Linked DNA regions of Homo sapiens: regions 1 and 3 are each linked to region 2. Evidence: fine-mapped expression QTL. A gene starts in region 2. Each other region holds a variant in brackets. All regions are shown on one strand. Distances are between the middles of the regions.

Region 1 (2,768 bases), 47 kb after region 2:
AATTTTGTCTTTTGTTGCCATTGCTTTTGGTGTTTTGGACATGAAGTCCTTGCCCACGCCTATGTCCTGAATGGTAATGCCTAGGTTTTCTTCTAGGGTTTTTATGGTTTTAGGTCTAACATTTAAATCTTTAATCCATCTTGAATTGATTTTTGTATAAGGTGTAAGGAAGGGATCCAGTTTCAGCTTTCTACATATGGCGACCCAGTTTTCCCAGCACCATTTATTAAATAGGGAATCCTTTCCCCATTGCTTGTTTTTCTCAGGTTTGTCAAAGATCAGATAGTTGTAGATATGTGGCATTATTTCTGAGGGCTCTGTTCTGTTCCATTGATCTATATCTCTGTTTTGGTACCAGTACCATGCTGTTTTGGTTACTGTAGCCTTGTAGTATAGTTTGAAGTCAGGTAGTGTGATGCCTCCAGCTTTGTTCTTTTGGCTTAGGATTGACTTGGCGATGCGGGCTCTTTTTTGGTTCCATATGAACTTTAAAGTAGTTTTTTCCAATTCTGTGAAGAAAGTCATTGGTAGCTTGATGGGGATGGCATTGAATCTGTAAATTACCTTGGGGAGTATGGCCATTTTCACGATATTGATTCTTCCTACCCATGAGCATGGAATGTTCTTCCATTTGTTTGTGTCCTCTTTTATTTCCTTGAGCAGTGGTTTGTAGTTCTCCTTGAAGAGGTCCTTCACATCCCTTGTAAGTTGGATTCCTAGGTATTTTATTCTCTTTGAAGCAATTGTGAATGGGAGTTCACTCATGATTTGGCTCTCTGTTTGTCTGTTGTTGGTGTATAAGAATGCTTGTGATTTTTGTACATTGATTTTGTATCCTGAGACTTTGCTGAAGTTGCTTATCAGCTTAAGGAGATTTTGGGCTGAGACGATGGGGTTTTCTAGATAAACAATCATGTCGTCTGCAAACGGACAATTTGACTTCCTCTTTTCCTAATTGAATACCCTTTATTTCCTTCTCCTGCCTGATTGCCCTGGCCAGAACTTCCAACACTATGTTGAATAGGAGCGGTGAGAGAGGGCATCCCTGTCTTGTGCCAGTTTTCAAAGGGAATGCTTCCAGTTTTTGCCCATTCAGTATGATATTGGCTGTGGGTTTGTCATAGATAGCTCTTATTATTTTGAAATACGTCCCATCAATACCTAATTTATTGAGAGTTTTTAGCATGAAGGGTTGTTGAATTTTGTCAAAGGCTTTTTCTGCATCTATTGAGATAATCATGTGGTTTTTGTCTTTGGCTCTGTTTATATGCTGGATTACATTTATTGATTTGCGTATATTGAACCAGCCTTGCATCCCAGGGATGACGCCCACTTGATCATGGTGGATAAGCTTTTTGATGTGCTGCTGGATTCGGTTTGCCAGTATTTTATTGAGGATTTTTGCATCAATGTTCATCAAGGATATTGGTCTAAAATTCTCTTTTTTGGTTGTGTCTCTGCCCGGCTTTGGTATCAGAATGATGCTGGCCTCATAAAATGAGTTAGGGAGGATTCCCTCTTTTTCTATTGATTGGAATAGTTTCAGAAGGAATGGTACCAGTTCCTCCTTGTACCTCTGGTAGAATTCGGCTGTGAATCCATCTGGTCCTGGACTCTTTTTGGTTGGTAAACTATTGATTATTGCCACAATTTCAGAGACTGTTATTGGTCTATTCAGAGATTCA[A/G]CTTCTTCCTGGTTTAGTCTTGGGAGAGTGTATGTGTCGAGGAATGTATCCATTTCTTCTAGATTTTCTAGTTTATTTGCGTAGAGGTGTTTGTAGTATTCTCTGATGGTAGTTTGTATTTCTGTGGGATATCTGTGATATCCCCTTTATCATTTTTTATTGTGTCTATTTGATTCTTCTCTCTTTTTTTCTTTATTAGTCTTGCTAGCGGTCTATCAATTTTGTTGATCCTTTCAAAAAACCAGCTCCTGGATTCATTGATTTTTTGAAGGGTTTTTTGTGTCTCTATTTCCTTCAGTTCTGCTCTGATTTTAGTTATTTCTTGCCTTCTGCTAGCTTTTGAATGTGTTTGCTCTTGCTTTTCTAGTTCTTTTAATTGTGATGTTAGGGTGTCAATTTTGGATCTTTCCTGCTTTCTCTTGTAGGCATTTAGTGCTATAAATTTCCCTCTACACACTGCTTTGAATGCGTCCCAGAGATTCTGGCATGTTGTGTCTTTGTTCTCGTTGGTTTCAAAGAACATCTTTATTTCTGCCTTCATTTCGTTATGTACCCAGTAGTCATTCAGGAGCAGGTTGTTCAGTTTCCATGTAGTTGAGCGGCTTTGAGTGAGATTCTTAATCCTGAGTTCTAGTTTGATTGCACTGTGGTCTGAGAGATAGTTTGTTATAATTTCTGTTCTTTTACATTTGCTGAGGAGAGCTTTACTTCCAACTATGTGGTCAATTTTGGAATAGGTGTGGTGTGGTGCTGAAAAAAATGTATATTCTGTTGATTAGGGGTGGAGAGTTCTGTAGATGTCTATTAGGTCTGCTTGGTGCAGAGCTGAGTTCAATTCCTGGGTATCCTTGTTGACTTTCTGTCTCGTTGATCTGTCTAATGTTGACAGTGGGGTGTTAAAGTCTCCCATTATTAATGTGTGGGAGTCTAAGTCTCTTTGTAGGTCACTCAGGACTTGCTTTATGAATCTGGGTGCTCCTGTATTGGGTGCATAAATATTTAGGATAGTTAGCTCCTCTTGTTGAATTGATCCCTTTACCATTATGTAATGGCCTTCTTTGTCTCTTTTGATCTTTGTTGGTT
Region 2 (2,768 bases):
TTGTTAGCCCCTTGCGCAGGATTTTGTGTTTGGGACAAGCCAACAGTGATGGAAATTTTCTCCCTTTTTTGTTTTGTTTTTTTTGAGATGGAGTTTTGCTGTTGTTGCCCAGGTTGGAGTGCAATGGTGCAATCTCGGCTCACCACAACCTCTGCCTCCCAGATTCAAGCGATTCTCCTGCCTCAGCTTTCTGAGTAGCTGGGATTACAGGCATGCGCCACCAAGCCTGGCTAATTTTGTATTTTTAGTAGAGACGAGCTATCTCCATGTTGGTCAGGCTGGTCTCGAACTCCTGACCTCAGGTGATCCGCCAGCCTCAGCCTCCCAAAGTGCTGGGATCACAGGCTTGAGCCACCGCACCCGGCATAAAGCATTTATTTTTGAATGTTCATATTTTTGATAAAGCAGTGTGACATCAGGAACATTTCGTTGCAGTCATTTTCTACCATGTTGGTATGCAATGCTCTAATGTTAAGAAATCAAGCTGAAATCTAGGAAATGTAGCCTGAATGTCTGTGATATATAAGACATAATTACATAAACGTAATAGCTGTATCTAAAAGTTGACCTATCTTTGTGTTGAAAATTTCCATCGGGCCGGGCGCGGTTGCCCATGCCTGTAATCCCAGCACTTTGGGAGGCCGAGGCGAGTTCGAGACCAGCATGACCAACATGGAGAAAACCTGTCTCTACTAAATATACAAAATTAGACGGGCCTGGTGACGCATCGCATGCCTGTAATCCCAGCTACTCGGGAGGCTGAGGCGGGAGAATCGCTTGAACCCAGGAGGCGGAGGCTGCGGTGAGCCAAAATCGCGCCATTGCACTCCAACCTAGGCAACAAGAGCGAAACTGTGTCTCAAAAAAAAAAAAGAAAATTTCCATCATTGTTTGCTTGTCCCAAACAAAATCCTGCGTAAGGGGATACGAAGTAATGAAATAACACGGCAGTAGATCTGCCTTTGCACATTGCTCAGGAGGCCACGGATTTGTCCGAAGTTTCTTTTTTCTCTAAAATGAGAAATGGAAAATTGCCTTTTGAAGAAGATGTAAATGCCCCACCCTCTGACGCTGTCTCACTCCCTTCCTGTGTCACTCTTACCGCTGAAGTCAGGACCTGACATTATCTTGTTGACATGTTTGCGTTTTTATCGTCAGCCTCGTCGAAAGGGGCGTACGATTGCTCCCCGAAACCAGGGTCTTTCCCGGCCGATTCCCCAGCTAGCAACAAGCCCCTTGCAAAGAGGAGGCGGACAGTGACTGGAATACAGGGACACGCACACTCGAGCCACACTGGCCGCCTCCCTCGGCCCTCGCAAGGGTCCCTAACGCGCCTTCGGAAGCCGCCTAGGCGGGGCCTGCGCGCGCGGGCCTCTGGGAAGTGTAGTTCGCGCGCCCGGCGTGGACCCGGGGTTGCAGGAGCGAGGCTCCGAGTGCGCAGGCGCACTTCCAGTTCTGCCCCACCGCTGCGGCCATTGTCCGACCCCGGTGCGGCTGAGGCCCCTTTGGGCAGCCCCTCCGCAGATCAGAATTGGAGATAACCGAGGCTTCGGCGGGGGCGGGAGGAGCTGCCCGAGGCTCTGGGTGGGCCGGAGGTCGCGAAATCCGGAGCCCCCCAGAGGCGGTGATTCTGAGTGCGCGGGTCTGGGCGGGACCCCTCCTGGGTTTGGCGGGTGTCAGCCGGGCCTCGCCCACCACCCTGCGAAGGGGACTGGGCGTGGCCGGAGGGGGGTGTCCGGGAGGCCGCTGAGCCTTTCATTTCGGGGATGGGGAGCGGCAGGCCCGGGCTGGTTCCACGGTCCTCGCCACCATCTCCCCTGGAGATGTGGTTTAGGGGCGGAGGTGGGGCGGGGCGGGGCGGGGTGGGGTCGGTGTTGCAGCGGGGTGAGTGGGCCCTGTCCTTTCTCCCCAGCTCCTGCCCCGGAGCCGGGCCCTGGCGAGGCAGGAATGGCCCCGAGGCCTCCGACCGCCGCGCCCCAGGTGAGCAACGCGTTCCTAACCTCCTGGGCATCCCATCCATCTATCCATCCCATCTCCCAAGGGTGTTTGGAGCAGTCATTGTTCTCTGCCTGGCGACTCCCTTACTTGCTTGGCTCGATCGGAGCCTCCTGGCCATGGAAAACCCCAGGCTTTGGGGAGCTGGATTCCCAAAGGGGAGGCTGCTCTGTGGGGTAGAGAGGGCCAGTGTGGTGCGATCTTGTGGGAGGAGTTGAGATTGGATGCGTTGGGAAGTGTCAGTTTTGAGAGTCCTGAATGCCACGCCAGTTTTTTGAACTCTTGTCAATAAGAAATGGAGAGAGTGGGGTCACAGGATGGAACACTGTAGAGGAGGAAGTGACTGTCGGCAAGTGTGGAGAGAGGAGCCCCAGCTTCTGACCCAGGGCCCATAGAGAGTCCGTAAGGGGCCGTAGAAGCCTGGTTAGAACATGTCTAGGAAGAGGCTGGAGATGGGCTTTCTTGGGCAAGGAGGCAAAAACAAAACAAAATAAAAAACAACCAAAAATAAAACCAGGGCTGATTCTCCCAGAGCTTTTTGTGTCTGTCCTTTTCTGCTTTAACAAAAATGTAATAGAGCAACTCACTCCCCACCGCCAGAAGTCCAGCCTTCACCTTAATGTGAGGCTGATTCGTGAACCCATTTATTCTTGTGGCAGAGGGGGCATTTTCTAGAAGCGTCACAACTCTAAGGTTATCCATTGATTTACATATTGGTGAAAATACATCAAGATCCAGATGGTATCTGTATCTTTGAATCTACATTCTCTTTA
Region 3 (2,768 bases), 25 kb after region 2:
GGAGAGCATATAGGATCCTAAGATGGGCTGTGATCCTGTTCCATTTGTATCTGTGCCTAACACAGTCCTGCTCACTTATTTCCTTATTTTCTAACCAACCCTCCTAGATGGGCTTTCCTCATTCTCTGGACTTACCACATACTCTGAATCTGCAGTCTTTGCTATCATTTCTTCACTTTTCCTTTTCTCCATTTTGGGTCGTCTTCTCAGGATACAGGAGTAATTTCAAAACAGAGTCATATGTAACTTATATGTCTTTCTTCATTCCTACTCTAGCAGTGTATTTCAACAGGAAGGAATAGGGGACTTTTGTACTTTGGATTTCTTTCAGACTGGAAGACCAGGCCTGAAGTCAAATCATCACATTTGCAGCAGGATGTATCAGAAGTATCCCACTGCACACATGATCTCTTACATGCTACATTAGAAGACTCCTGGGATGTTAGCAGCCAGTTAGACAGGCAACAGGAAAACTGGAAGAGACATCTGGGATCAGAGGCATCCACCCAGAAGAAAATAATTACACCACAAGAAAATTTTGAGCAAAATAAATTTGGTGAAAATTCTAGATTGAACACCAATTTGGTTACACAACTGAACATTCCTGCAAGAATAAGGCCTAGTGAATGTGAGACCCTTGGAAGCAATTTGGGACATAATGCAGACTTACTTAATGAGAATAATATTCTTGCAAAAAAGAAACCCTATAAGTGTGATAAATGTAGAAAAGCCTTTATTCATAGATCATCGCTTACTAAACATGAGAAAACACATAAAGGAGAGGGAGCTTTCCCTAATGGAACAGATCAAGGAATTTATCCTGGAAAGAAACACCATGAATGTACCGACTGTGGGAAAACCTTTCTCTGGAAGACACAGCTTACTGAGCATCAGAGAATTCACACTGGGGAGAAACCCTTTGAATGCAATGTATGTGGAAAGGCCTTCAGGCATAGCTCATCTCTTGGTCAGCATGAGAATGCTCATACCGGAGAGAAACCCTATCAGTGTAGTCTCTGTGGGAAAGCCTTCCAGCGCAGCTCCTCCCTTGTTCAACACCAGCGAATTCACACTGGAGAGAAACCCTATCGATGTAATCTATGTGGGAGGTCCTTTAGGCATGGCACATCCCTCACTCAACACGAGGTCACACACAGTGGAGAGAAGCCCTTCCAGTGTAAGGAATGTGGGAAAGCCTTTAGTCGATGTTCTTCCCTTGTCCAACATGAGAGGACTCATACTGGAGAGAAACCTTTTGAATGTAGCATATGTGGGAGGGCTTTTGGTCAGAGCCCATCCCTTTATAAACATATGAGGATTCATAAGAGAGGCAAACCTTACCAAAGCAGTAACTACAGCATAGATTTCAAGCACAGCACATCTCTCACTCA[A/G]GATGAAAGCACTCTTACCGAAGTGAAATCCTACCATTGTAATGACTGTGGGGAAGACTTTAGTCACATTACAGACTTTACTGACCATCAGAGGATCCATACTGCAGAGAACCCCTATGATTGTGAGCAGGCTTTTAGTCAGCAAGCTATTTCTCATCCTGGAGAGAAACCCTATCAATGTAATGTATGTGGGAAAGCTTTCAAAAGGAGTACAAGTTTCATAGAGCATCACAGAATTCATACTGGAGAGAAACCCTATGAATGTAATGAGTGTGGAGAAGCCTTTAGTCGACGCTCATCGCTTACTCAACATGAGAGAACCCACACTGGAGAGAAACCCTATGAATGTATTGACTGTGGGAAAGCCTTTAGTCAAAGTTCATCTCTCATTCAGCATGAGAGAACTCATACTGGAGAGAAGCCCTATGAATGTAATGAATGTGGGAGAGCCTTCCGAAAAAAAACCAACCTGCATGATCATCAGAGAATTCATACTGGAGAAAAACCCTATTCTTGTAAGGAATGTGGGAAAAACTTCAGCCGAAGTTCAGCTCTTACTAAACACCAGAGAATTCATACTCGAAATAAACTCTAGGAACCGTGAAATTAAGGAATTTGCAGAATGCTTTAGCTAAAATGTTCTGATTCAGGATCAGAGGATTCTTAGAGAGCTTGGGAATGTAATGAATTACGTGTGTGTTTATACGTTGTGTGTGGAGAAAACTGCCAGTAGACAGATTTTTTTTTTTTAACATAAAGACACATTCTCAGATCTGATTACAGACTAGTGTAAAAACAGCTACATGTATGTAGCTGGTTGGGGATGATATGCCTGTATGTTGGACTTTGCTTTTGAATATATGTATGCAGGATATCATCAAGTTTCAACATCTTGACTTGTGACCCCCAATGTCAACAGCTTTTTTAAAAAGCAAATTCCTGCAGTAATGACCAAAACCCATTTTAAAAATTGCTTGACAACTGCACTCAACTGCAGCTCTTACATTAACTTCACCATGGAAACCAGTTCCAACTCCAGGAAGTCACCATTCAAAGAATTAGATCAACTAGCCCAACCACTTCATTGTACAGATGAAGACTGAAAGCCAAAGATGTGAAGTGGTTTCCACAGTATGATACAGCCTATAAGGGTAAAGCTGGGTTAAAAATGCAGGTTTCCTGGATTTGGGGCCCCATGGCCTTGCCAGTGAAAAGGTTATTTTTGGACTCAGAGGGCTTTAAAATAAATTTTAAGATGTATCAGATACACAAACATTTAATGGGCACCTATGGGTTGGACACTTTGAGAATTCTTAAAAGTATAAGTGGGAGCAAAATGTATGCAAATTTATCACAAACTATTTAAAGCAACTTCTT

Direction of the effects. Positions count from the first base shown, and alleles are read on the strand shown. Sizes are in standard deviations (SD) of each study's normalised expression. Not every link is listed here.
With allele A in place of G in region 1, the expression in lymphoblastoid cells of the gene that starts at base 1,446 in region 2 is lower (moderate effect, 0.69 SD a copy in TwinsUK).

What was found. PIP is the estimated chance that this variant, and not a neighbour inherited with it, causes the effect. A credible set is the group of variants that fine-mapping cannot tell apart.
Region 1: its variant is the best candidate, but not a certain one, in a credible set for the expression of ZFP90 in lymphoblastoid cells (TwinsUK, PIP 0.63).
Region 3: its variant is the best candidate, but not a certain one, in a credible set for the expression of ZFP90 in nucleus accumbens (GTEx, PIP 0.51).

Annotation. Positions count from the first base shown.
Region 1 is chr16:68,584,499-68,587,266 of GRCh38, forward strand. No RefSeq gene overlaps it. Among named protein-coding and RNA genes, the nearest start is that of ZFP90, 47 kb to the left of the region's middle. The variant A/G (reference allele first, on the strand shown) is at 1,686.
Region 2 is chr16:68,537,846-68,540,613 of GRCh38, forward strand. It overlaps ZFP90 (ZFP90 zinc finger protein), which reads left to right and starts at 1,446. Exons shown (of 5, transcript NM_001305203.2): 1 at 1,446-1,634; 2 at 1,913-1,980. The coding sequence starts at 1,948.
Region 3 is chr16:68,562,713-68,565,480 of GRCh38, forward strand. It overlaps ZFP90 (ZFP90 zinc finger protein), which reads left to right. Exons shown (of 5, transcript NM_001305203.2): 5 at 332-2,768. The coding sequence ends at 1,986. Among named protein-coding and RNA genes, the nearest start is that of ZFP90, 25 kb to the left of the region's middle. The variant A/G (reference allele first, on the strand shown) is at 1,392.